2 linked regions of the Homo sapiens genome follow. The protein of the gene in region 1 purifies or fractionates together with the protein of each later gene. This does not show direct contact. Each region holds a gene or a part of one and is shown on either strand. Other genes may lie near its edges.

The links.
Region 2: the proteins of RAD1 (region 1) and RFC4 purify together in Homo sapiens (affinity purification with mass spectrometry; 3 studies listed by BioGRID and IntAct, with this or other methods). This does not show direct contact.

Annotation. Positions count from the first base shown.
Region 1 is NC_000005.10:34,910,009-34,926,398, reverse strand, and holds the start of RAD1 (cell cycle checkpoint protein RAD1), read left to right. Parts: upstream 1-10,894; 5' UTR 10,895-10,983; intron 10,984-11,437; 5' UTR 11,438-11,506; coding exon 11,507-11,704; intron 11,705-12,820; coding exon 12,821-12,929; intron 12,930-14,586; coding exon 14,587-14,845; intron 14,846-16,390. Other genes in the region: BRIX1 (ribosome biogenesis protein BRX1 homolog), read right to left, coding at 904-1,173, 1,424-1,552, 3,165-3,266, 3,348-3,398, 3,631-3,704, 3,811-3,860, 4,112-4,182, 6,516-6,559 and 2 more. UniProt on the Homo sapiens protein: Component of the 9-1-1 cell-cycle checkpoint response complex that plays a major role in DNA repair. The 9-1-1 complex is recruited to DNA lesion upon damage by the RAD17-replication factor C (RFC) clamp loader complex.
Region 2 is NC_000003.12:186,798,704-186,811,203, forward strand, and holds the start of RFC4 (replication factor C subunit 4), read right to left. Parts: upstream 7,780-12,500; 5' UTR 7,587-7,779; intron 6,022-7,586; 5' UTR 6,011-6,021; coding exon 5,880-6,010; intron 2,493-5,879; coding exon 2,414-2,492; intron 1-2,413. UniProt on the Homo sapiens protein: Subunit of the replication factor C (RFC) complex which acts during elongation of primed DNA templates by DNA polymerases delta and epsilon, and is necessary for ATP-dependent loading of proliferating cell nuclear antigen (PCNA) onto primed DNA.

The sequences.
Region 1 (16,390 bases):
TTTTACTATTAGTTTTCTAAATAAGTAATCTATACACACTGCTTCTAAAATAAGTATGTCATTTGGCCGGGCATGGTGGCTCATGCCTGTAATCCAAGCACTTTGGGAGGCCGAGGTGGGCAGATCACCTGAGGTCAGGAGTTCGAGACCAGCCTGACCAACATGGAGAAACCCCAACTCTACTAAAAATACAAATTAGTTGGGCGTGGTGGCACATGCGTGTAATCCCAGCTACTCGGGAGGCTGAGGCAGGAGAATCACTTGAACCAGGGAGGTGGAGGTTGCGGTGAACCGAGATCGCGCCATTGCACTCCAGCCTGGGCAACAAGAGCGAAACTCCGTCTCACAAATAAAATATAATAAAATAAAAAATTTACAAAGTGCTTTCAACACAGCCATTAATGCATTTGATTCTCAAAACCTCAACATTTTAATATACTCTTTTTTGAAGTGACAGATCAGGGGTTGGTTCTTCCATGGCTTCATTAACTGATGACTGAGTAAACTTCAGTGAGATGCCTTCCTTTCTACCAGTCTACTCCTACTTTACCATCCACAACCGATGCTCTTGAAGTGTTGAATGCTTTTACAAATAATATGACCTAATAAATGTCTGAATTTCAGCTTTGCTAAACCAAAAATTCCAACCCAAGAGAACAGGCTACATTAAGTGTGCTACATTTTTAGCAACACAAACTTCAAAAAGAAATCAGAAATTAACTGATGAATTCTGGTGATATTTTATTTAGAAAAAGATAATCACTGATTTTAAGATCTTAATTTTTCTTTCTTGTAAATGCTACACTAATTAGACGTAAGATAGTATTAGATAATAAAAGTATTTACACATTGAATACAAAATAAATATAAAGTAACTGAAAAACAAATCAGGTTTCCATTGACTTATTTTGTTTTCCCACTGTCCATCCTCTGTTTCATTTTTCTTTGCCTTTTGTAAATCCGTTTCTTTCTTGCTTTCAAATCAACTTTTGGCTCTGGTTTTACCCACTGTATTTCTATTGGTTTCTCCTCAGCTGGTGTTACAAAAACATCTGCAGTGGGATCATGTGGAAGAAGAGTCTTCGGCTCTTTCTTTCTCAGTTTTTGCACATCTTTCACTTGCTGTTTCTCTCTGTATTTTGCAGCTGTGATGGATCTTATGACACGCCGATGCTAAAAAAAAAAAAAAAAGATTAGATGCTTTTGAAATAAAAATAAACATTTTATATAAGGCAAAGACTTTCAGTTATGAACCATATATCCTTTCAGCCAGTGTCATGAAAAAAGGGAGTAATTTCCAAGTTTCTATGCAGCAAAAACCAAATTCAGTTTCACAGGTAATAAAACAGCAATTACTTCACAGAATCATTTTGGCCAAAGGGTTCTGGTACATTGAAGACTACTGAATGACACAACCGCTTACCATGTTTGGTGACTGGTAGTGAGGATTTTCATATAAAGTTGGTCCTCCAAAACTTCCCTGGAAAATCTTTATGAGATTTAAGACAAAACGAGGTCCTATTTCTACAAGAGCAGCATCTTCTTCTATGATCTTTAATAAAAAGGAAACATTTCATTTTGGTTTGGTTACGTTATTCCCAAAAGGTATACTGGCTATAACCTCATTATAAATGTGCCTGAAATAATTGATAATCCATAAAATCAAGGTGGGGGTGAAACTTGGTAAATGGCAAATCATCAATATTTTCTGAAATCTATTAGTACTTATAGGAAGTTGTCATGGAAAAATGTTTTTTCAGTGAGTTCTTTTAAAATTGAGTAATTAGATTTTGGTTCACATCTTGCTTGTCACAATGCATATATCCTTGAAAAACTGGTTAAACAGGATTTTAAAACAGTAACCACTATTAACAAAATGTATTAAAGCACATTATGGGGGAACTCTTGAAACTTAAATCAATCCCTAAATTGTTTTTATAAATCTAATTCAAGTTAGATTAAAAGGATATGTAGTCAAATTTATTTAATAGCTACTGATTATGGAATTAAAAGGCAACTTCCGAACAACAAATATTTATGTTATCTATTAGTTCAGGCATGTCTACCCTCAGAGGTTAGGATGATGTGTTCAACTCACATGCCAGGTATCCAATATAAAATATGCAGAAAAGAGCTCAGTTTATGTCATATACTGTCTAAAATTTTGTTCTTGCTGTTCTCTTCCACCTCTTCATCTTTCTGCACTTATCGTGCCAAACTCCTGCTTCAAGATTTCTAGAGTCACCTCCTCTTTTCTCCTGAATGAGTCACTGTGTGACTCATCATCTAACCGCTGCCATTGAATGCCTTCTAGAGCAATTACATTTTGCTAGGTCTTAACCTTTGAGGTGCTTTGAGAGAGAAACTTCTAAGCTTTGAGAGAGAAACTTCTATTTTACTGTATCCTTTACAGCACTTTCTACAAATTAGGAACCCAAGTATCTCATGGATCTTCAAGTTATTCCCTTTCTATAAAGTTAAATATATAATGGCTTATTAGGAAATCCATACTCTGTATCAACTAACAGTCATGAATAGAAGTAGGTAGAGCTCACTTAAGATATAAGACAGTACATAGTTACTTGCAGCAATCTCTTTAGGGAAAAGGAAGCTATTTAAAACAAAAGAATTATTTGCATTTTTTGTGTATGCAAACCCTGTATATCCTTATCTAAAAGTTTAACTAAAAATTGACCAGGCACAGTGGCTCACAACTGCAATCCCACCTACTCAAGATGCTGAGGAGGAATGATTTGAGGCCAGGAGGTTCAAGGCCAACCTAGGCAACACTGCGACACTCTATCTCTAAAAAAAAAAATTAGGCCGGGTGTAGTGGCTCACGCCTGGAATCCCAGCACTTTGGGAGGCCAAGGCGGGCAGATGGCCTGAGGTCAGGAGTTTGAGACCAGCCTGGCCAACATGGCGAAACCCCGTCTCTACTAAAACTACAAAAATTAGCCAGGCGTGATGATGGGTGCTTGTAATCCCAGCTACTCAGGAGACTGAGGGAGCAGAAGCTTGAACCCGGGAGGTGGAGGTTGCAGTGAGCCAAGATTGTGCCACTGCAGTCCAGCCTGGGCAACAAGAGCGAGACTCTGTCTCAAAACATAAATAAATAAACTCAATTAAAAAAAAGGTATAATTAAAAATCAAGTAAAGCTTACCTGAAAGTTCCGAAACCATATCCTATTATCCAAAATGGTGAAAGTAAACACGTGGTCCACAAATGGTTGGCTTTTGGGATGATACCGTGGTGTACTAAAGATCTAGTTAAAAAAGTGTATGTTAGTTCCTTATTCCAAGATATATCATGTATATTTTGGATAGCTAATTTTAAAGATATTTACCTGAATTAAGAGTTCTTTTAACAAAGCATAATGTGGTAATTCATCAAAAGCCTATAAAAATAAGGTAAGCATATTATTTAACAGTAGACTGCCTTGTTTAAAACTGTTTGCTCATTTGTTTCTATAACTTGGCTATAACCTCATTATAAATGTACCTGAAAGAATTGATAATCCATAAAACCAAGGTGGGGGTGAAACTAAATTGAATAACACAACTATATCTACTAAAAACAACCATGCCAGATAAGAAAATTAGACCTCATACACTGAATGAGAAACTTACAGGGTCAAAAGACAAAAGGGGCCGAGAACCTTTCAAACAGTTTCCAGTCATCTTCAGTTCAGCGAGGGTATGAACTAGAAAAATTACAACAAAAACAAAAATAGTTGTAACTTTTGCACAACTATTTCAAAAGATTACTTTTAATTTCCTCATCTAAAAAAATTTATTGAGTCAACTTACTATTTTGAACAAGGAATTTAGCAGATGGTCCGTGAGGTGAATTTGAAAGCCTGAAAGATATGGAGTAAGCTTTTTCAACTAATTAGCAAATGTAGTCAATGCTTACCACCTATTCACCATAAATAATATGCTTATAATATTTATACATTTAATTTTCTTTAAAGGTATCAAGTTTCGTGAAATCAAAAGTTTGCTTCATTCTCAACCCTTAACATGAAACACTAGGAGTCTATAACATAAAAGGTACAAAGAACAAATCCACTTAAATGAGTTTAACCAAAATCTTAATACATTCTCTTACCACATATAGAGATCCTGTTTTTTCTTAGCTTCAAAATAGATGCATTTATTACAGTTCTTCATTTCACAAACCTAAAGGAAGCAAAGTATAGGAAAATGAAGTAGATAATATAAATGAGAACTAAAGTAATTATATGTGATTAATATCATCCAGATTATCTCAAAAATACCTAACCAGGCTAATAGGCTACAAAGGCCTAAACATGTATTTATTCACAGAAGGAACCTTTAAAGTTCCTCTTAGGTATTCTACCCAAGGTAAACTAGATGCTCTGCCCATATCTTGGGTGAAATTATCTATCATATTTTTGGGCCTAGCATCTAAAATGGTCTCACTTCTGATTACTGGAAACCTCCCTCCTTTTTTTTTTTTTTTTTTTTGCGATGCAGTTTCGCTCTTGTTGCCCAGGCTGGAGTGCAATGGCACGATCTCGGCTCGCCGCAACCTCCACCTCCCAGGTTCAAATGATTCTCCTGCTTCAGCCTCCGGAGTAGCCGGGATATTACAGGCCTGTGCCATCACACCCCGCTAATTTTGTATTTTTAGTAGAGATGGGGTTTCTCCATGTTGGTCTGGCTGGTCTTGAACTCCCAACCTCAGGTGATCTGCCTGCCTCAGCCTCCCAAAGTGGTGGGATTACAGGTGTGAGCCACCTCACCTGGCCAGGAACCTCTTCTGCCCATAGTCCCATTGACAAACTACAAAGACTAAAAATAGATGCCCTACGGATAAAGCATACCACAACTAATCTTCTTATGTTAATCCTTCATAATCAATCTTCTTAGCCAATCTTATGAAAATGCAGTACTTATAGAACTAAAAACATCCTTTTTAATGATTATTTTGATTTTTAACTTTTTAGCTTTTTGATTCTAAGATCACAAAACTTAAGTTGTTCTTCATTTATACTATCATTTCTGGTGATTTGGTTCTATAAAATCACTAAGGGATTGGGTGAAAAGCCTAAGTATATCAAACCTATTTCAAATTAAACTTCAATGTCTTGAAGGCTTACAAAAGTCACACTTGAGAAGACACAAAAACATTACAGGAGTGAAGGCTTGTATTACTGTAGTATTCATAAACTCTAATTAATATAGTACTCTTAAACTCCACATTATTTAAGACTTTAAACCTAACAACTTATGGCTGGATGAGGTGGCTCATGCCTATAACCCCAGCACTTTGGGAGGCCGAGGTAGGTGAATTGTCTGAGCAACCTGGCAAAGCTCCATCTCTACTAAAAATACAAAAAATTAGCTGGGCATACTGGCGTGTGCCTGTCGTCCCAGCTACTCGGGAGGCTGAGGCAGGAGAATTGCTTAAACCCAGGAAGCAGAGGCTGCAGTGAGCTGAGATCATACCACTTCACTCCAGCCTGGGTAACAGAGAGAGACTTTTGTCTCCAAAACCAGTTAAACAAATAAACAAACCCTAACAACTTAAAAAAAAAAAACAAAACTTTTGTTTCTTACTGGTCTTAGAATAAACACAAAAATAGGAAGTTTGTGCCACTTCTGGGCTTTTGTAGTTGCCATTTTCTCTAGCTAGATGGTCTTTTACCATATTTCTCCTTCACTACGTCTCTGCTCAAATATTAAACACCATCCCTTTGAACAGGTTTTTCCGGTGTAGCCTCAGCTGTCCAAAACCTATAACCTGCTTTATTTCTCCTGTCTTTACTTGAAATTATAAACCTTGTTTATGGCCTGTCTCCATTAGAATGTAAGTTCCATAATGACAGGGACATTGCTCTGTTGAACAGTTTCTACAGCACATAGAATAATGTGGTATTACAGCAGAGGTTCAAAAATTTGTGCTCTAAAGAAGGCTAATAGTGAAAAAATGATCCTAATTCTTCTAAGTTTTGAAAATTTTGCTTTAAAATGTAAATTTATGTTCTGTGCTTCCAGAGGTTAAAAAAAATACCTAAGTGTAGTATCTTAAACAATACTTTGAAAATGTAACCTATTCAGTTTGTAATACCTTAATAGCCAGTTCCACACAAATCACTTTTAATACTGGCAAAACACTTTTTACCATGTGGGTTTTATATATATATATGTTTAATGGACTTATTTTACTTTATATATGTTGACTGATAATTTTTTGAGTACCTACTATGGATTTAGCATAATACTAGACACTACAGGGTTAAAAAATGGGACATAATCCTTCTCCTGAGGAAATTTCAATATGCTTGTTCAGACAAAACAAACAGAAATGAATGAAGCACTAAACTGTGAGAGATAAAAATTTGGAAGACCAGTTATTGAAGAGTTAATAAAATGTGTCTGAATAGTTTTTACAAAATAATTTTTAAAGTCACTGAATGACTTAGTTTTGAAATAAGCCACTGTTAACATTTTAAAAATATTTTGTTGCAATTACTTTCCAAAATTACCTCGTTAATCACAAATAGCTTATCCTTACGATCCATTTTAGTATCTAGAAAAAGAAAAAAAAGAAAAAGCAAGTAAATTAAAGGTGATTTCAAAGTTATTTCAATCAAACCACATATGCTATCCAGAAAATAAAGTGTTTTTACACTCTTCAGTTTAAAGGAGATTTTATTACTAATTTTCAAAACAAGAGCTGGAAACAATCGCTCAAAAATCTTGACTCTTTGTAAATGTAAAGAAAATAAGTAAAATATAGTCTGTAAGAATTAGAAATTATAGTGTAAGCAGTGTTTCTCAATATTTAGGTATTCTAGGAATCCTTTTCAAAAATGGGAAAATTCTCACAAACCAAAGACTGTGTTAAAGGAAACCAGTTTCAATGAAAATATCTTTCACTTTTTAATCTTAGGTGTCAAAGAAAACTGACTTTATGCCCGTGTAACAAACCTGCACATATACTCCTTGAATCTAAAATAAGTTAAAATTTTAAAAATAAAAAACAAAAAACAAAAAAACCCCAAAGCACCTCTCAACATAAGCACAACAACAGCCATATGATGGCGCTGCCACTCCACTGTTCCAAACTTTTTTTTTTTTTTTTTTTTTTTTTTGAGACAGGGTCTTGCTCCTTGCCCAGGCTGAAATGTAGTGGCGCAATCACGGCTCATGACAGCCTTGAACTCCTGGGCTCAAGCCATCCTCCTGCTTGAGACTCCTGAGTAGCTGGGACTGCAGGCAAGTGACCCCCTCACTTGGCTAATTTACTTTACTTTTTTCATTTTTTTTTTTTTTTATTTTGTAGAGACAGGGTTTCACCATGTTGCCCAGGATGGTCTGGAACTCCTGGACTCAAGTGTTCCACCCACCTCGGCCTCCCAAAGTGCTGGGATTACAGGCATGAGCTACCATGCCCGGCCATACTGTTCTTGCCTGTAAAATAACCCACTGCTTAAAAATAAATAAATAACCTGGCATTTAGAAATAGGCTCTGACTCCAACTTAAAAAGTGCTTTGAATTCTATCCCAGGTCCATTTTTCAATAAAAACAGTTAAAAAAAAAAAAAAAAAGGCCCAAAAAGCAACATGTGGCAGTCCTTAGCACTTAGGACAAACCATCCCACCTATCTCAGGACCTTCAGAAGCATTACAGTGAAGGCATTCCTGGACCTTCAAGAAATGTTTCAATAATATTAGGACACCTGTTTTAAAAAGTAAAGAATCTACCTAATGAAATCTAAAGAATTTCTTACGAAATGTTAACTGGAAAAATTGTGGCACTTGAAAGGATAAAAGGCATTGTGTTTTTTTCGTGAGAACACTGAACAAATGAAGAATATATAAAATAAGTGAAAACATAAAAATAGGTAAGTTTATAGATAGAAATTTCTAAAGTATATGATATAAAGGCACCTGCTTTAGAATGAGGCATCAACATTCTCAAGTCCTGCATTAAATGTCTTGTTCTAAAATTTATTCCTCTGGAAGAAAAGATGAGAATCCGTTCCTTATTTTTCCACTTTCCCTAAAGAAAAAGAAAATGTTAAAAGATTTTAAAATCTTATACTGAACTGATCTTGTTTTGTGACAGGGTCTCACACTGTTGCCCAGGCTGAAGTGCTCACGGCTCACTGCAGTTTCAAGTTCCTGGGCTCAAGTAAGTGATCCTCCCACCCCAGCATCTACAGTAGCTGGAGACTACAGGCATGTGCCACCATGTCCAGCTAGTTTTTTTTTTTTTTTTTTTTGTAGAGATGGGAGTCTCCCTATGTTGCCCAGGCTGGTCTCCAACACCTGGGCTCAAGTGGCTTGGCCTCCCAAAGCGCTGGGATTATAGGTAAGAACCACCGCACCTGGCCCTGTTTGTTTTTTATGAGCTTCCAAGTAGCTCATAACCAAGTCAAACCATCCTGACTCCTTTAATTTCATCTCTCACCAACATTCACTGACCACATCTGCCACCCAGAAATGCCCTCCTTGGTTTCTTTGTTTTTCAACTTCAATCTCTCCAATTCCTCCTTCCAACCCTAAAAGTTCTTTCTTAGCCCTCTTATTTCTGTGCTCTCCATGACAGATGTCTCATAATAATTTCCCACAACTCTTAATCCTTTCTTATTCACACTGCACTTACTTAGAGTCTTATATTAACTGCAAAACTCCTAAATGGCTAACCTTCCCAGACATGAGCACCTCCAATAGATATGGTTGACTAGCTTTTTCAACAGTTTACTTTTTTTGTTTGTTTGTTTGAGATGGAGTCTCACTCTGTCACCCAGGCTGGAGTGCAGTGGCGCGATCTCGGCTCACTGCAACCTCCACCTCCCGGGTTCAAGCGATTCTCCTGCCTCAGACTCCCGAGTAGCTGGGATTACAGGTGCCCGCCACTGCACCTGGCTGATTTTTTTTTTTTTGTAGTGTTAGTAGAGACGGGGTTTCACCATCTTGGCCAGGCTGGTCTTGAACTCCTGACCTAGTGATCCACCCGCCTCGGCCTCCCAAAGTGCTGGGATTACAGGCGTGAGCCACCACGCTGGACCATTTTTAAAGTAATACTTCCATCACATCCTTACTTCCCAGAGTTTTCTAAACAAAGTTCAAATGACATAGCTTTGACACTGAATTTTAAAATAGATTTTCACGTCTACATCATTATTGCCCCAAATGAAGCCTAATGCAATCCAATCTGGCTCTATTTTTTACATTTTTCAGCATTTCCCTACTTCAAAGTCTTTCATCGGTTTTTTTTTCTCCCTTGGAGTGTTCCCTCTCATTTTTTGAATGTCAAAATTCTACACTTCCTCTGATATGCAGCTTACGGGCTAAATCCTTCATGATTCTTTATCTTATTATACTAGGGTAAAAATAATCTATATCTCCTGCACTTCCATAGAATGTATCGAAGTATGGCTCAGATTATAGATACTACCTAGCTCAAGGGAAGAGTGAGAACACTAACATTTACTGGAAGTGTACAAGTCCAGCTTATTTTTCATAAAAAGTAAATATTCCCTCCCCCTGCCCCCCAATCTGCAGGTCAGAAAAGAGCACAGAATGTTGCTGTTAATAACGGGGCTAGAATTTACACTTATCTTTCATTCCACAGAGCTCACTTCTTTCTTAGAGCTTGCCATCACACCACACGGGGTCATTTACTTATCACCTACTCCGCGCTAGAGTACTATGCTAAGTGCGGAGGACGCAAAAATTAATGTCAAAGATAATCCTTGTTCACAGTATTCTGTCTAGCTTAAGAAGAGTTCTTAGTTGAATGAAAGCTAATTCTAACAACTTGTGTGCACTTCTTTTGAATAAAAACCATCAACTTATTTGAATTCTTAAGTTTCCTCCTAAACTCCAACATTTCAGGAGGAAGAGGTCACATTCTAGTCATCTTTGCAATCTCAAACCCAAAGGAAGCCTAACTTGGTACAGTGCATGGCACATTCAATGTCTGTTGAATACAAGTAAAGCTCATACTACCTAGTCTATTTTTCAGTATCTCTTGAGTTAATGACCTGGTTAACAAGTCAGAGTCACAGTCCCAAGGGCAACAACTTTTTAAAGGCTCCCCTAACGTACTTCAGGATCCCTGACTGAGAGTGGCTGACTATGGCAGTATATGGGCATACTAATCACTGGAGAAATAATAGCGAGAAATAACCAAGGAAAAGCACTACTCTCCAAAAACATTAAAAAAAAAAAACAACTGAACAACTAGTAAGAAAGAACGCTGGATCTGAGCACCCTGTAAGTCGCTTCCCCGTGGGCCGGGTAAAGGTTTTAAAACCCGCCGCCTCCAGGAAGACGGCCACGTGCACAAGGATTAGCTGCAAACTCCGTGCCCAGTCTGGCCGGGAGAATTGCTAAAACCGACCTACCGTTAACACCCGGGCTACTCTGAAATTAAGCAAGGCTGTAGTCAAGTAAGTAACCCAAGAAAAGGCGCACAGAGCCGCCGCCGCAGGTGTAGCCCGGGGACATCCCCTCCTACCTTGCAAACGGGGCCTGGGATCCGGTCCCTCTCTTCTTCCTCCACCTCCTCTGCTGTGGCGTGCCGCTTAGCTGGCGGCTCCGCATCTATTTCGTTTCTTTTTGGCTTCTTCGCCTGAACTGCAAAGCCTCCACGCCGTTTCCTCTTGGTTGCCGCCATCTTGCCTCGCCGCCCGCGCTCTTGGCCTCCTTTCCGGCGCTGCCGCTCGCTCCTATTTCCGATCTCTATGGTTCGGCGGCTCTAAGCGCTCAGCTCCGCGGTCGTCCTCCAGGTCTGTGCCGCCTCCTTCCGGTCTCGGTGGCGCGGCACGCGCGGCTCTCTAGGCCTCCTTCAGCTCTGTGGTGACGGTGGCCGAGGTGGAGGGCCGGTCTGAAGAGTGGCGGGACTGGCTTCACTTCCTCCGCGGTTCCTCGGAGCCGCCTCGCTCCTCTTCAGGGACTTTGCTGAGAAGGGCTCTCGGGCGTCCAGACCCCACCGCAAAGGTAGGGTTTCCGCACTCGGGGACCCCGAGACTAGTAAGCGATGCTGTCCCGCGGGCGGGCTGGTGAATGGGGTTGTCTGGGACTCTTGGAGGATTATCTGGACACTCCGGGCCCGCCCCGCCATCGCCTGTTTTGTTGGAGGCGGGGCTGGTGGCGCGGGCTGCACAAAACCGACTCCCCGCGGATTTGTAGCTCCTGTTTGGCCGGGAGATACCGTGTCAGTTGCGTGTCTTCATTCTTCACAACTTTTCACGTTATTGTCCTCTTACGGAGACGAGGAAACCGTAGCTTAGATAATTTTCCTCCAGAATTACAAAGATAGTTAAGTGACATAGGTGGGGTTCGGCCTGGTCAGCCGTGTTCAGCCTCCCAGCCCCTTTCCACCTCTCAGCGCAGGTGGAGCTCGCCGGACCTCGCCAGCACTGATGGGAGTTTTACTGTCTAATCCCTTCAGGTGTTTGGCGATCCGCCGAGAAGTTGTTGGCCCCAGGAGCATCCCTCGGGGCCGAATGCGCAGTGGACGATGCCCCTTCTGACCCAACAGATCCAAGACGAGGATGATCAGTACAGCCTTGTGGCCAGCCTTGACAACGTTAGGAATCTCTCCACTATCTTGAAAGCTATTCATTTCCGAGAACATGCCACGTGTTTCGCAACTAAAAATGGTATCAAAGTAACAGTGGAAAATGCAAAGTGTGTGCAAGCAAATGCTTTTATTCAGGTATGGAAGTAGGCGCCTTTAAGCCTGTGCCATAGATACTCTAAATGTAATTTAATGAAATCGGAAGGTTTCAGTAGACAAAATAACTTAATAGTCATAATAACTTGTCAATAGTCATAATAAATAACTTAATAAATAAATAATAGTCTTAAGTTAGAGAACAAAACGTCATTACTTGAATTTTTTTTCTCTCCCGGTAACAAATTCTTTTCCCATCTTGTTTTACAGAGATAATGGTTAGTAATGACTAAAGTTTATTAAACTAGGCTATTGGCTAGGCTACAGTCTTCTTATTGTTTAACTTATTTAATCTTAACAATAGTCCTGTAAGGTAGGTTCTGTTATTATTCCCGTTTTATATATGTGGAAACGAGGCACAATTTTAAGTGATTTGCCAACAGTCCCACAGCTGGTAAGTGGCTGAATTGGGATAAGAACGCTGAATATTTGTTTCCAGAATATATGCTCTTTTTTCCACTGCGATATGCTATTACTAAAGAGTATTTTTTTCCTTTACTGGTTGTAATAGAATTTTTGTTCTTCCAAAGTAATATTTGTGTGGTTCAGATAGGATTGCAAGTTCAACTAAGCGTTTTTTAACACGTAAGTGCACAGCATGATCTCAGGGATAGAGAGGTAAATAAGACACGGTTCTTGTCCTCATGCAGGGGCATGGTATGGTGGCTCACACCTGTATTTCCAGCTGCTCAGGAGACCGAGGCTGAAGCACGAAGATCGCTTGAGCTCAGGCATTAAAGACCAGCCTGGGTAATCATAGTGAGACCCCCGTATCAATAAAAAATCATAATAAAAGTTGAAACTAATGTTGCTCATGCATTATCAAGTCATTCGTCTATTTTCCAAGTGACCTTAGCAGTAGTGATAGGCACAAAAACGAGACAAGGGAGAGTCACAGAGGGATAGTTTTAGATCCAGGAATGGAGATAAGGATGCTTCAAAGGATGTCTCTAAGATGTTTTGATTGCTAATCAGAAATTATTCTCATGGGATTAGCACAGTATTGTATTTTTTAAACGTATAAAGTGAAATCTAGGACCTTATATTATTAGTTTTTATTCTTTTATGTAACAATTTTCATTTTTACTCTTTTCATAGGCTGGAATATTTCAGGAGTTTAAAGTTCAGGAAGAGTCTGTTACTTTTCGAATTAATTTAACTGTCCTTTTAGACTGTTTATCTATTTTTGGATCAAGTCCTATGCCAGGTAAACTATGATCAGTATAAAGACATAAAAGTGTTATACATAGTGGTCAGAAAAATACAGGAAGTTATTTGGAACATAAACATTGGTTCAGAAAGCTAATGCCAATTCATTTTTCAGTGGCCACAGTCATGGGTTCTAACATTTCACAATGTTAATTGCAAGTGTGTTTATAATTCTTTTCATATTTGTAAAAGTATTTGCATTTTTTTTTTAATTTACAAGGCTTTGAGGGATTGTAAATTCGAACTGGCCAAAAGAATACTTTGGACATGTCTTAAATATTTTTAGCATTGTGAAATGTTTTAATTGCTTCTTTTTCCTAACTTGTCCAGAATTACTCCGCTAGTTAGTGGCAGAGAAAAACAAAAGCCAGTTCTGACTCCTAGTTTACTATGTTCAAAATTTGTTTCTTTTAAGCCATATTTTATAAGTTATGTCTATTTTGCCAAATGATTTTGTGGTGTTTTTGAGACAGAGTTTCTCTCTTGTTGCCCAAGCTGCAGTACAATGGCACAGTCTCAGCTCACTGCAACCTCTGCCTCCCGGGTTCAAGTGATTCTTCTGCCTCAGCCTCCCGAGTAGCTGGGATTACAGGCACGTGCCACCACGCCCGGCTAATTTTTTGTATTTTTAGTAGAGATGGGGTTTCACCATATTAGCCAGGCTGGTCTCAAACTCCTGACCTCAGGTGATCTGCCCGCCTCAGTCTCTCTAAGTTCTGGGATTACAGGCATAAGCCACCGCAACCGGTTGCCGAATGATTTTCTTTAAAATATATATTTTTTTATTTGTTAAGGGAATTTTTAAGAATGGTGAAATTGAATTGCTGTGGGTATAAAACTAAGGAATCCCCAGAAGAATGATTTTATTTCATAGGAAAGCAACCTGGAGATTAGCTAGGAAAAATTCAATATAGTTCTCCAGAAAAATGTATTTTACGTTTCCACAGACAATTCCACTATTATTAATTATACATTTTCTAATACAGTGTTCTCCAGCTAGTTTTTCACAGAAGCATCTGTCATCTTCCATTCCTCACTGTGGCTCTCAATCCAGTAAGGAGAAGGAGTTTGAATATCCTGTCATATTCCTCCTTCCCTCTAGTGGTTTGCAGAGTTAAAATTTACACCACCATTAACAACCCTCTTTTTCTCTCAATTTGATTTTTAAATTCGAGGAAATATAAAGAATATCTCCCAGTTGGAAAAGTTGGAAGGATCCTTGTCATAGTGAGTACACTGACGTTACAGTACAGATGACAGCAATCCACTGTTACACACATTGAACCTTCAAGGAATAGCATACCCTGTTCTGCAGCAATTTAGTTACTTGCTGTGTTGATCCATATAGATTCTCTACCCTGAAATTGTACATATATAAAATCAACAAGCTATTTCTGAGGTGTGTATGACAACCTGAAAATGATTCCAAAGAATTATGTTACATTTTGTTCTGGTTCCCAATTTTCTTGTAGTTTTGGAATTCTCTACACACAACTGTCATCAGGGAAGATGTCATCCCTTTTTATGAGGAGATACATATATGTGAGAAATTGGGCGGAATAAATTATTCTTGAGAAATTTTATGTATCATTTCGAGGAGAAGCTGAACCCAGAACTATAAAGCTAAGGCCAAGTATGACTTCTTTCCATTGCAGGGACTTTAACTGCACTTCGAATGTGTTACCAAGGTTATGGTTACCCTTTGATGCTGTTCCTGGAAGAAGGAGGAGTGGTGACAGTCTGCAAAATCAATACACAGGAACCTGAGGAGACCCTGGACTTTGATTTCTGCAGCACCAATGTTATTAATAAAATTATTCTGCAGTCAGAGGGGCTCCGTGAAGCATTTTCTGAATTGGATATGACGAGTGAAGTCCTACAAATTACCATGTCTCCTGACAAGCCTTATTTCAGGTACTTGAGAGCAGTGCAGTTATAGTTAATGTGGTCTGTACTCCATCTTCCCACTTAGACATTTGCTTAGGATGCAAAATTTTTATTATCCACATTTTTAGAGTTTTCACAACTTTAGACAGCTTGTACTCTTACCTCATAATTTTATGGATCAAGAAACTTAAGACCCAGGAAGATTAACTCACTATTTCATATTTAGGTGGTGGTGGCATCTAGATGAGAAGCCCAGTCCTCTAATTTATAAACTGGTGGTGTTTTCATTGTACTACTCCTTACTTTCATAGATCAGGTTACATCATGAGGAAAATTGGGTTTAAGTGTTTGGAAAGGGTGTTTGTATTATGGTATCTTTTTCAAGTTAGTTCAGGATGCAGAAGAAGATGTTTTCTACACGTGGCTCATTCATTCACTAAGTATCTGTTGATCACCTACCGTGTGCTTATTCATCTTATTAAGCATTGTGGGAAGAACAGCTTAAAACCAAGGTGAAGCCAAGAAAATGTGAAACAGCAAACCATTAAGTACCAAGATAGCACACACAGATACCTGGGAAATGCTGTATAAGGATTTAGGGAGGATTGCTCAAGGCTGGCTTCCCAAGGGAGGGCAGTTTTCAGCAGGAGTACAATGTCAAAAAAGCTGTTCTTGATAGTTTAACACAAGTCTCTTTTCAGGATTAGACTCAGAGATTCTAGCAATTTAGAGAGAGGATCTAAATATTCTCTTTTTGAAATATTTCAGAATATTAAAGCCCCTAAATACATATGGAATAAAAGGAATAAGGTATTCTTTTTGTAACTACTTTAGAAGAATTACAGGCCCGGCTGTAAAAGTGCTGTGGCAGACACCTGTAATCCCAGCACTTTGGGAGGCCGAAGTGGGCAGATCACTTGAGGTCAGGAGTTCAAGACCAGCCTGGCCAATGTGGTGAAACCCTGTCTCTACTAAAAATAGAAAAATTAGTTGGGCGTGGTGGCACGTGCCTATAATCCCAGCTACTTGGGAGGCTGAGGTGGGAGAATCACTTGAACCCAGGAAGTGGAGGTTGCGGTGAGCTGAGATTGCGCCACTGCACTCCAGCCTGGGTGACAGAGTGAGAATCTGTCTCAAAAAAAAAAAAAGAAAAGAAAAAGAATCACAGGCCCTTGTCATGACTTTGGGGAGTTAAAAATTTGGCTCAAGGTCTGAGAAAGTTAACCAAAATGGAAATTGGAAACCTTACTTTAGCAGTGGAATGAAGTAAAAAATTCAGGTACTTAAAACAGTATTTCAGGGGATCTCCTCAGTGATCTCTCTCAGCCTGGGTAACGAGATGGACCATGGTATCTTTCATCTCCAGGATGGGAAACAATTTGGTGGTAGGGAGGTAGGAGTTGAAATTTTTTCCTGGATATGTTAAATTTTAAGTACCTGCGACACTAGGGAGTGGCTGGATATGTAGTTATGGTGCTCAGGAGATCCATTTAGACTGGAAATTTAGATTTGGGAACCATCATCATGGCTGGGTATGGATGAGACGGGTCAGAGAGAGAGATTATATTAGAA
Region 2 (12,500 bases), on another chromosome or scaffold:
TTCTTTCTGCCTGGCCAACTCCTAATGCATTACAAATCAGAAACCATTCAGTCTAAAGTAGGTCTCCTCTCCTATTCTCTCATTAGTGTTTGTTGCATTTTGCATTGGTTTATTGTTATTTCACTGTGGGGCTTAATTGTAAAATGCCTGTCTACTTCATTAAAAGACCAAGAACCTTATTTGTTCTATTCACATCTGTATTCTAGCATCTACTACAGTAGTCAATGTTGGCCAAATGAATGAATAAACCAATACATAGACAAATATGTTAATTAGAAGACTATTACTGTTACATTCATAACATATAGCTTACAGAACAAACTATGAGATTCATAACTTAAAAACCTCCCAGGCTTCTTAGTAATTAAGGTCTACAACTATTATTTTGATCTGTGCATCCCTTAACAATGTAACGATTCATCCAGGTTAACTATCAGATACAATAATTTAAATTCTTTGAAACAGGGTAAAATTATTAAACCTTAATTATACACTAGTCTAATATATGTAGTACATTCAAGAACTGTATGTGGAATACCAGTTCTTAAAATCAATTTCTGAAAAAATTATCTTCTTATAATTCTTTAAAACCTTTCAAAATAAATTGAATGAATTGTTTTCCTTTACTCTTTTGAATTAAAAAAACTATTTCACCTCTTTACAAAACTTAGTCTGAAAAGGTGCACAAAATATTAAACTGAAGTTCTTACTTCAGCCTCATAAATTACGTGGCATAAAGTCAAGAACTAGATCTTAGGCTGGGCATGATGGCTCATGCCTGTAATCCCAGCATTTTAGGTGGCCAAAGCGGGCAGGTCACTTGACATGGCTAAACACCATCTCTACTAAAAATACAAAAATGAGCTGTGTGTGGTGGTGCATGCCTGTAGTCCCAGCTACTTGGGAGGCTGAGGTGGGAGGATCACTTGAGCCTGGGAGGCGGAGGTTGCAGTGAGCTGGTATCACGCCACTGCACTCCAGCCTGCGTGACAGAGCAAGACTCTGTCTCAATTACAAAAAAAAACAAAAAAACAAAAGAACTGGATCTTAATCTCACTACATTTGCTGAAGATACTAGTAATTAAATTAGATATTGTCCTGCAATCTGTGTAATTACTATGCAACTGCAATTAAAATGGTATATACTGTTACCAAGATATGCAAGCAGAATATACCAAAAAATAAAATGCTATACTATTATAAAATTAAAAGGTATAAGAGTATTTGTGTTATTTATTTTTTATTACTTATTTATTTATTTATTTTTGAGACCAGAGTCTCACTCTGTCACCCAGGCTGGAGTACAGTGGCACAATCTTGGCTCACTGCAACCCCTCCGCCTCCCAGGTTCAAATGATTCTCCCGCTTTAGCCTCCTGAGTAGCTGGGACTACAGGTGTGTGCCACCACGCCTGGCTACTTTTTCTAATTTTTGGTAGAGATGGGGTTTCACCATGTTGGCCAGGCTGGTCTTGAACTCCTGACCTCAAGTGATCTTCCCATCTCAGCCTCCCGAAACGCTAGGATTACAGGCGTGAGCCACTGTGGCCGGCCAAAAAGGTATAAGAGTATGCGAGTCAAATCAAAACACATACTGGTAAAGAAAAAGATTCTAAATAGTTTTATAAATTTAACTTCTTTCAAAATGTGTACTGTAGTAATATAATTTCAGCAAGGGAATGATGGCAGCAAAACCCAAAAGAACTTCTAATTAAAAGCAGCCAGATTGAGAGGAAGGAAGCAAATCTTGAAACTAAAGCAAAAACCACATCCCACTTCAGCACTTTACTGAGCTGTTAAAGCACTTTGGGCATTCATCATAACACAACTTTAAGTTGCTAATTTTTCACATGGGTTTATCTTATCTCAGAATAATTTACAATGCAAGTTATCCATGGATACTTTATCCCCCAGATCACAGCAGAAGAGAGAGCTATAAGCAGAATTCAAAGCTCGATTTTTTTTTTGTATTATAGGTCAATCCAAATCCTAAAGTTAGTAAGCAATTATACTTTAGAGGAATCTCTGGCTCTTCTTTATAGCACATATTACTACCTATAATTATTTATTGGTTTACTTGTTTATTCTATCTTTCCTTACCAATAAAAACCCATGAAAAAAGGGGCATAGTTTGTCTTGTTCTATGTTTTATGTCTTGTTCTATGTCTATGTTTCATAGTTTGTCTTAATTACTATGACTTTTACTTGAATACTAGGTAACACTGCTATGTAAGATTAAATAGGAGATGCTCAATAAATATTTGAACTAATTATCATTGTACAAATAGTTATCAAGGACCTACTGTACACAGAGCAAGATATTTAACGAGGGCTAGAAGTTATAAAGGAAGAAAGAGGGTGAATAAATTAAGTCTTAAATATCCCAATGACATTAAACACCATTTGCAACTCACATCTGCTCCTTCTAAAGATTTTTTCAGCACTGCAACCACTTCTTCCTGGAAAGCAACTTCATCCACACATTTTGGGCGACTTGCGGGGTGAGAAGGAGGAAAGAGGTTATTTAGTATATTATAGTAGCCACAGAAAACTCTCAAGTGTTCCTTCTACTAAAATACCAATGACCATTCTTAAACATCAGCAATGAAATGAGAAACTTTTTCATAATCGGAAATAGGTGGAAACCCCACTTGTTTTTACCGTAACCAAACACATTCTGAAAGAGTGAAATAATGTTTTACTTCCTTTCTGCATTGCTCGAATCTGTTATACCCACAAAAATTAAAGAAAAAGGATTTTATTTTATATGCTACAAACACTAATTAGAAATTAAAGTGGGGGATTAAGACCATCCTGGCTAACACAGTGAAACCCCGTCTCTACTAAAAACACAAAAAATTAGCCAGGCGTGGTGGTGAGCGCCTGTAGTCCCAGCTACTTGGGAGGCTGAGGCAGGAGAACGGCACGAACCTGGGAGGCAGAGCTTGCAGTGAGCTGAGATCGCACCACTGCACTCCAGCCTGGGTGACAGAGGGAGACTCTGTCTCAAAAAAAAAAAAAAAAAAAAAGAAATTAAAGTGGGGCTGGGTGCGATGGCTCACACTAATCCCAACACTTAGGGAGGCTGAAGCAGGTGGATCACCTGAGGTCAGGAGTTCAAGACCAGCCTGACCAACACGGAGAAACACTGTCTCTACTAAAAATATAAAATTAGCCGGGCATGGTGGTGCATGCCTGTAATGCCAGCTACTCGGGAGGCTGAGGAAGGAGAAGCGCTTGAACCCTGGAGGCAGAGGTTGTGGTGAGCCGAGATCGTATCATTGCACTCCAACCTGGGTCACAAGAGCGAAACTTTATCTCAAAAAAAAAAAAAAAAAAAAAATTAAAGTGAACACCTGCTTAGAAAGCATTATTATTGGCCGGATGCGGTGGCTCACGCCTGTAATCCCAGCACTTTGGGAGGCAGATCACCTGAGATCAGGAGTTTGAGACCAGCCTGGTCAACATGGTGAAACCCCGTCTGTATTAAAAATACAAAAAAAATTAGGTGGGCGTGGTGGCACATGCCTGTAGTCCCATTTGAACCCAGGAGGCAGAAGTTGCAGTGAGCCAAGATCGCACCACTGCACTTCAGCCTGGGCGACAGAGCAAGACTCTGTCTCAAAAGAAAAAAAAAAAGCATTGTTCCACTTTGACAAAATAAGATCATGAATCTTAAGATGAAAAGGGAAAACCATTTAGTAACCTTAGTATAGGTAACTATTTTGGTTAATGTAGTTACATATATACTTAGTATGTGTTAACTGGTTAATGCCAATTTTTTCCATCATCTAACTGCATAAAAAAATGAAGACCTATTCAATTCATTGAGGGCTAACAAAAACAACAAGCTGAACCAATATGAAGTATCATATATAATTTTCATCTTACAACAGTGATTTTTAAGAGAAGCTAGAACAAAGTTACACTTCCAACTCTAAGCTTAGGCTTTGTGCTTAGTTAACTAATCAAAAGTTCTTTGATCCATACTTTTCGATAAATCAGGTTAACACTAGGTAGGAATTATGATTTTTTTTTTTAATGTCTTCTCTTGGGAATCCAGTATATGTTATAAAGCAGGGACTCATATTCAAATACCTGCAGAGATTAAGCAGATAACAAGAGTGAGGAAGGCAGAGTGTGATGCAAGATATAGTAGGGACCATGGCAAATTGAGGAACACACGACCTTTCCAAAAGGAGAAGCAGTACACAAGTCCATATAACTCCTGTCATGTGAGAACCTGCCCCCAGTGTTGCCTGATCTCCTGAGAAGCTGAAAATCCAGACCCTCCTCCACATAATTAAAAAAATCTAGATTTTCATGAGGTTTATTGGTGCCAAACAAAACATATAAGGGGCTGGGCGCAGTGACTCACGCCTGTAATCCCAGCACTTTGGGAGGCCAAGGCAGGCAGATCACCTGAGATCAGGAGTTGAAGACCAGCCTGGTCAACACGATGAAACCTTGTCTCTATTAAAAATACAAAAATTAGCTGAGTGTGGTGGGGCATGTCTGTAATCCCAGCTACTCGGGAGGCTGAGGCAGGAGAATCACTTGAACCTGGGAGGCAGAGGTTGCAGTGAGCTGACATTGCGCCACTGCACTCCAGCCTGGGTGACAAAGTGAGAATCTGTCCCAAAAAAACAAACAAACAAAAAGGCAAGCAAAAAACAAAAACACAAAAAACATATGAGGGCCTTACTCGGCCTATAAGTAATCTGTAAACATTGGTAATTACCGAGGCTACATTCAACCAATAGTTACAATTACTTGTGGTAATATCACTTAGATGACTGACAATTTTATTTATTTATTTGAGACAGAGTCTCGTTCTGTCACCCAGGCTGGAATGCAGTGGTGTGATCTCAGCTCACTGCAATTTCTGCCTCCCAGGTTCAAGTGATTCTCGTGCCTCAGCCTCCCAAGTAGCTGGGATTACAGGTGCCCGCCAACATGCCTGGCTAATTTTTTTTTTTTTTTTTTCCCAGTAAAGAGGGGGTTTCGACATGTTGGCCAGGCTGGTCTGGAACTCCTGGCCTCAAGTGATCCTCCCACCTTGGCCTCCCAAATTGCTGGGATTACATACAGGATTATAGGCATGAGCCACCATGCCAGGTGGTGACTGACAATTTAAATGCTAATTCAAGTGTTGTTTGGACAAAAATGTATGAGCTAACCAAAACTGAATTTCCAGGGCTGGGCGCGGTGGCTCATGCATGTAATCCCAGCACTTTGGGAAGCCAAGGCAGGTGGATCACTTGAGGTCAGGAGTTTGCGATCGACCTGACCAACATGGTGAAACCCCGTCTCTACTAAAAATACAAAAAATTAGCCAGGTGTGGTGGTGGGCACCTGTAATCCCTACTATTTGGGAGGCTGAGGCAGGATAATCACCTGAACCCAGGAGGTGGAGGTTGCAGTGAGTCGAGACCATGCCACTGCACGCCAGCCTGGGCAACAGAGTGAGACTCCGTCTCAAAAATAGTAATAATAATAATAATACTTTCCACCTATTGTAATGAGAAGAAGGAGGAACAGATTACATATTTGGATTTAAGTAGAACTCCTGACCTAGTATTTATAGCCAGTTTACAGAAACTTTTGTTTTCTTCACTTCTGTATCCCAGCCCCTAAAATGGAAGCCTCTGCTTGTAGAGATCTCAGTTTATCTACAAAATAAGGGAGTTAAACTAGATTATTCTCAGGTAACTTTAGTTCCAGGGTTCTATGACTTATATAAGTGGGTGATTTTTTTTCAAAGACAACTTCTAAACAGAACAAAGCATTCCTCCATAAGTTAAAAAAAAAAAAAAGTGATCAGTACTGGTTAGAGAGATAATTTATGAATTATTTTAACAAAGACACAAGTGTTCTTACTATTTTTCCACCCAGGGAACGGGTTTGGCTTTCTTGTTCTCTCCGCTACTTCCCGCACTGGCAGCTACTCCTCGATCCTTGGTCAGCGGGGGTTTAGTACTGATGGATGTACCTTTAAGAAATGCTTGCATGGTACTTCACCCTGGTCAGGTGCAAGACAGAAAAAAAAAGCTTTTATTGAAACTTTTATTGCGAATCAGCACCATAGGAAAGCGGGGGTGGTGGTGGGGAACCATTATGAGAAAGTACAGCCCGAAAATAAACTTAGCCTTGTGCAAAGATGTTACATAATAAAGGACATCACCCCATGACCTAGGACACTCTGAATGCACTGTACTGAGGGCTACAAGAACAGAAAAGTGGTCAAAGTCCCTAACGAACTTAGAATCTATTTCTAGTGCAGGAGTTATAGAACAAAGATCATATGTCACAAAAATGTTTAATGAGTTCCAAATGCATTGATAAATATGATGTTGCTAATGACCAAACCACATGGGCCTCCATGGTTTCTTTCACAGTCATGGGCCTAGCTCTAGCTCAGACCCTGAAATGGACTCTTCGGCAATTAAAGGTGCTCTGCTTGCACCACAAATGAGAACCTTCACTCCTTTCCTTGGGTCAGAACTCAAAGACCTTTTTTTGTTGTTGTTGTTTTTGAGACAGGGTCTCACTCTTTTGCCTAGGATGGAGTGCAGTGGCGGAATCATGGTTCACTGCAGCCTTGACATCCCAGGCTCCTGTCATCTTCCCACTTCAGCCTCCCCAGTAGCTAGGACTACAGGTGCGTGCCACCACCCCCGGCTAATTTTTTAAATTTTTGGTAGAGACAGGGTTTCACCATGTTGCCTAGGCTGGTCTGGAACTCCTGGGCTCAAGTAATCCTCCTGCCCCGGCCTCCCAAAGTGCTGGGATTACAGGTGTGAGCCATCTCGCCTGGCCAGGGACCTATTTTCATGGCAGAGTCAATGCTTACCTACCTTCAGAGACTTTCTGTGGGGAAGGGAAGGTGGGGGACTCTGTTGTTAAAATAGAAACAGCTGTTTTTCTCATAACACACTCACTTGAAGAAATCAAAACAATGCATAAAAGCATGAGAGATTTAAAAAAGTAATACAAAATCCCACCCAGAAGGTAACTATTTCTAACATGCAGGTAAACATTCTTCCAGGCTGTTTTCAGGGATAAAAAGCATCATTAGCTCGCCTGAAAAGTCCCCGGTTAATTCTATTTTTTTCACTGCTACATGCCCTGGTGCCTAGAACAGTGCCTGGTACATGGTAGATGCTCCGTAATATTTGGTGAATGAATTACCATCTATGATACCCGGTTTCCTTTTCTGTTAAAGGAGCTAAGGCCTATTCCACAGGACAACTGAGTTAAATAAAAGAATGTATGCAAATACATAGTTCCTTGCTTGGCATATGGGGATATGCTCAATAAAATAAATTTTTAATATCTGTTAGCAGCCAAGGTTTTTATAACGTTACTGGATTAGTCCATCCCTGCCTCGGGCTGTTAAACATTAATACAGCCCAAAGCCGGGGCCTGCAAGATGCTGTCCGGAACCACCATTTCACCAAAGGGCGCGGCCAGGGCATGAAAGGGCCACTAGGCTGGGGCCCCGAAGGAGGTGGAAGACCTCACAAGGGGCATCAAGGGCAGGAGTGGGGAAGGCGAAGCGGGCTTGCAGTTCCTCCAGCAGGTTACCAGTTAGCCTGGCTTCTCGTGCAGGTCACCGCCGCCGGCTCGTTCCTCAGGTTTCCGCGATACAAAAAGGACGAGATGGTCTCGAAGTCTTAGCTCCGTCACCTAATCTGAGAATAACGGGCCCAGGAGACTTACGATCACTGATGTCCCCACAGTCGCCTCAGTTCCCGCCACGGAACGGCGGGCGAAAAGCAGGGCGGGAATACGCCGGTAGGAATACGCGGGCACGTAACGCGTCACTTCCGGTGCTGGGGCGCGCTGCTTGCGGAGGGAGTTTGCCCGTATACGGTTTTATTTAGGCAGGTGATGAGCCAGCCGGACTTTCAGGCAGAACTGGACTGGAACAGGCATGGCCTAGGAGGTGTCCCTGTCCCGGTGCATTGCTCCCACTTCAGACGTGAGCGCGACCCTCCCGGAAGGAGTAGAGGTCGCGCGGGCACGGCGCTGGGGCTGCTTACCTGGCAGGCTCAGCAATGAGGGCGGGGCGGCGGCGCGCGGGCCTCTGGAACCCTGCCGGTCCACCGAAGGTCCCGAGCCCGCTATCTTCGTAGGTGCGGGCCTCCGGAGGTGCAGGTCCCTGTCCTCCTTGTCCTGCTTCGTCGCAGAGCAGAACGCGTGTGCTTTAAGGGCAGAGACATCTGAAGATGCTTTGCCTTGCCCTCTTGAGGACACGTGGCTTTTACTTCTAATAGTGTCTGCGTGTTGTGGAGAGAGAAGACCATGCAGCTGTGGACATCTATTATAATTCCTGAGCCCCACTTAGAAATCTGGAAGTGAAGGCGTTCAATAAAAGTTAAAGGACTGATAATCATGTTTAGCCCCACCAAGCTTCATGCACAGTGGGCTAGGCTGGTGCCTGAGCCCACTGCTTTTATCTCTTCCAAGTACTTGGTTTAGCTCTGAAATGCTCCTTAATCCTATTGAAACCTGACCCTTCTCAAAGGCCACCTTCTCTACTGGTCTTTACTAATTACTAACCCATAAGGTTGTTCCGGGTCTTCTTCAAATGACTGTTTTGTTTGGCACAAACTCAGCATGATATCCATTGTTAACTTTGTACGTTTTTTTCATTTATCTTGCAACAAATGCTTACAGAATGTCCACGCACTGTGTTAGATGCCTGCAGATACAGCAGGGAAAACGCTCGAGATGCCCTCAAGTAGCTTTACAGACTAGGAGAGTGACAGACAATGTGATGTGTGGTTATGCAGAGGAAGTAGGGGGCTGTGAGAACTTACATCCCAGGCCTAACCCAATCAAGGGTTTAACCAAAGTAAGGATGCTTTATGCTACTTTGTAATTTCCACAGAGTCTGATACAATCTCTGGACAGTATAAAAAACACACAGGTTATCTATCTGGTCACCGGTTTACATTACCATAACTTATCAAACTGTATACTTAATGCTTGTATATTTTATTGTATGTAAATTATACCACAATACAGTTGATAAAACAAGATCTATGAAAATAGATGGTATCCATTTGCTACCTGAAGGAACAGCACAACCACAGAGAGGGGGATGTTATGATCTCATTTAACAGACAAGTTGGGCTGGGCACGGTGGCTCATGCCTGTAATCACAGCACTTTGGGAGGCCGAGGTGGGCGGATCACCTGAGGTCGGGAGTTCAAGACCAGCCTGGCCAACATGGTTAAACTCCATCTCTACAAAAATACAAAAATTAGCCAGGTATGATGGCAGGTGCCTGTAATCCCACCTACTTGGGAGGCTGAGGCAGGAGAATCGCTTGAACACGGTAGGTGGAGGTTGCAGTGAGCTGAGATCACGCCATTGCATTCCAGCCTGGTGACAGAGCGAGACTCCGTCTCAAAAACAAACAAACAAAAAAACAGACAAGCTGATGGATAAGTGGTCTTTGTCCATTTTGGCTGCTATGTTTATAAGCCATAGATTGGGTGGCTTATAAACATCATAAATTTATTTCTCACAGTTTTAGTGGCTGGGAAGTCCAAGATCAAGGCACCATAAGATTCAGTGGCTGGTGAGGGTTCACTCCCTCATTGACAGCTGTCTTACTGCTGTAACCTCACTTGGTGGAAAGGGCTAACTAGTTTTCTCCAGCCATCTCCTTTATGAAGGCATTTCTCCCATTCATGAGGGTTCCACTCTATTGAACCAGTCACCTCCCAAAGGCCCCACCTCCTGATACCATCACCTTGGGAGTTATAATTTCAATAACTATAATTTGGGGGTGTGGGGACAAACATTCAGACTACAACAAAGGTTAATAGCAAGTAAGTGGCAAAGCCATAATCCACATCTTGGACTGACTCCAGACTCAAAGCTTGTGATCAGTCACTGGGCAGGTTCAGGGCTGGCATAGAGGTGCCTTAATGTTAAATAGAAAAGAGAGACCTGAGTGGTATCTTGTTTTGGCAATTGATTTTAAAAAAATGCCACCTTTCTGCAGGTACATTCAGCCCTTGGTGGGATGAAAAACTTGGTGATAAGAGATTGGGCTGGATTTCTATCTCCACTTGCCCCTCAGCTGACTACTCCGTTATTGTACACAATTATAGGCAGCATCCTAATCCAGGTAGTTGAAGAACTTGTGTGCACACCAAGCATTGTCTCTCTCACCAGAACAAGAAATGTCCTTATATAAATACTTATCTTTTTTTGTGTCATACATATGTGGGTGTTCACATGATTAAACCAGTTTAACAAGTTTATAATAGCTTTTATTATTTATTGTAATGGGCATTCATTCAGTTACTACTATGATACTATTATGTGGAGATTTGTAAAGTTTTTTTGTTTTGTTTTATTTCTGTTTTTTCTTTTTTGAGACGGAGTCTCACTCTGTCACCCAGGCTGGAGTGCAATGGCTCAATCTTGGCTCACTGCAACCTCCGCTTCCCAGGTTCAAGTGATTCTCCTGCCTCAGCCTCCCAAGTAGCTGGGACTACAGGTGTGCACCACTGCACCCAGCTAATTTTTGTATTTTTTTTTTTAGAGATGGGGTTTCACCATGTTTGCCAGGCTGGTCTCGAACTCCTGACCTCGTGATTGCCCACCTCGGCATCCACCCACCTTGGCCTCCCAAAGTGCTGGGATTACAGGTGTGAGCCACCGTGCCTGGACCCTGTGAAGTTTTTTAATCTTAAAAGAGGGCTTTCAAAAGTTGAGTACAGCTTTATTTAGTGCGTTGCCCTTTGAAACAGATGATACAAAACTGTACCTGCATGATGTGTGTGTGTGTGTGTGTGTGTGTGTGTGTGTGTGTATATATATATATAGAGAGAGAGAGAGAGAGAGAAAGAGAGAGAGAGAGAGCACGAGATCTCCCTATGTTTAGTCTTGAACTCCTTGGCTCAAGGGATCCTCCCACCTCAGCCTCCCAAAGTGCTGGGAATACAGGTGTTAGCCACTGCCTCTGGCCCTGGATTATGTTTTTTTTTAAATTTTTTGAGACACAGTCTCACCCTGTTGCTTAGGCTGGAGTGCGGTGGCACTAACTCAGGTCACTGCAACCTCCACCTTTTGGATTCAAGTGATTCTCGTGCCTCAGCCACTTGATTACAGACACATGCTGCCAAACGTGGCTAACTTTTGTATTTTTAGTGGAGACAGGGTTTTACCACGTTGTTCAGGCTGGTCTCAAACTCCTGACCTCAAGTGATTCTCCCGCCTCAGCCTCCTAAAGTGCTGGGATTACAGGCGTGAGCCACTGTGCCTGGCCTGGATGATATTTTATAAGGTCACTAGGAAAGGAAAAGACTTGGGTAGCAAATGAAAAAAGAGAGCTGTCAGGAGTGGAAAAGATCAGATAGTGGATGATAGTGTCATTTTGAAATCAGAAAATGCAGGCTGAGTGCAGTAGTTCATGCCTATAACCCTAGCACTTTGATAGGCCAAGGTGAGAAGATCACTTGAGCCCAGGAGTTTGAGACCAGTCTGGGCAACACAGCTGAGACCCCATCTCTAGAAAAATAACAAATAAATAGAAAAAAAAATCAGAAAATGCAGGTGTAGTGGATGCTCTGGTATGCTACCTTTCAGGACTGAGATACTCACTCCCCCAGCTGCTGGGAGGGTTGCTGGCCAACTCTTGAATGAGTCCCTGTCCAGCAACTGTCTTCAGCCAACAAAACCACTTTATCAAAAATTGCATTCCTTTTGTGGAGGCAGCCCACCTCCAAGGGCTAGTCTAGGAGGATGCTACAGTTTGGATGTGGTTTGTTCCCGCCCAAACTCATGTTGAAGTTTAATTGCCAGTGTGGAGGTGGGGCCTAGTGTGAGGTGTTTGGCTCACTGGGGTGGATCCCTCATGAATAGACTGGTGTCATTCTCAAGATAGTGAGTGAGTTCTTGTTCCTGGGAGATTGTATTCGTTCTTATGGAAATGGATTAGCTCCTGAGAGAGCAAGTTGTTATGAAGTGGGTCAGCCTCCTTGGTCCCCTCACTCAGCACGTGCCTGCTCACCTTTCTGCTTCTCCTCCATGTCATAAGGCAGCATGAGGCCCTCACCAGAAGCTGAACAGCCTGGCGCCATGCTCTTGGACTTTGCAGCTACCAGAATTGTGAGCTAAAGAAATCTCTTTTCTTTTTTTTCTTTTTTTTTTCATTTTTTATTGATCATTCTTGGGTGTTTCTCGCAGAGGGGGATTTGGCAGGGTCATAGGACAATAGTGGAGGGAAGGTCAGCAGATAAACAAGTGAACAAAGGTCTCTGGTTTTCCTAGGCAGAGGACCCTGCGGCCTTCCGCAGTGTTTGTGTCCCTGGGTACTTGAGATTAGGGAGTGGTGATGACTCTTAACGAGCATGCTGCCTTCAAGCATCTGTCTAACAAAGCACATCTTGCACCGCCCTTAATCCATTCAACCCTGAGTGGATACAGCACATGTTTCAGAGAGCACAGGGTTGGGGGTAAGGTCACAGATCAACA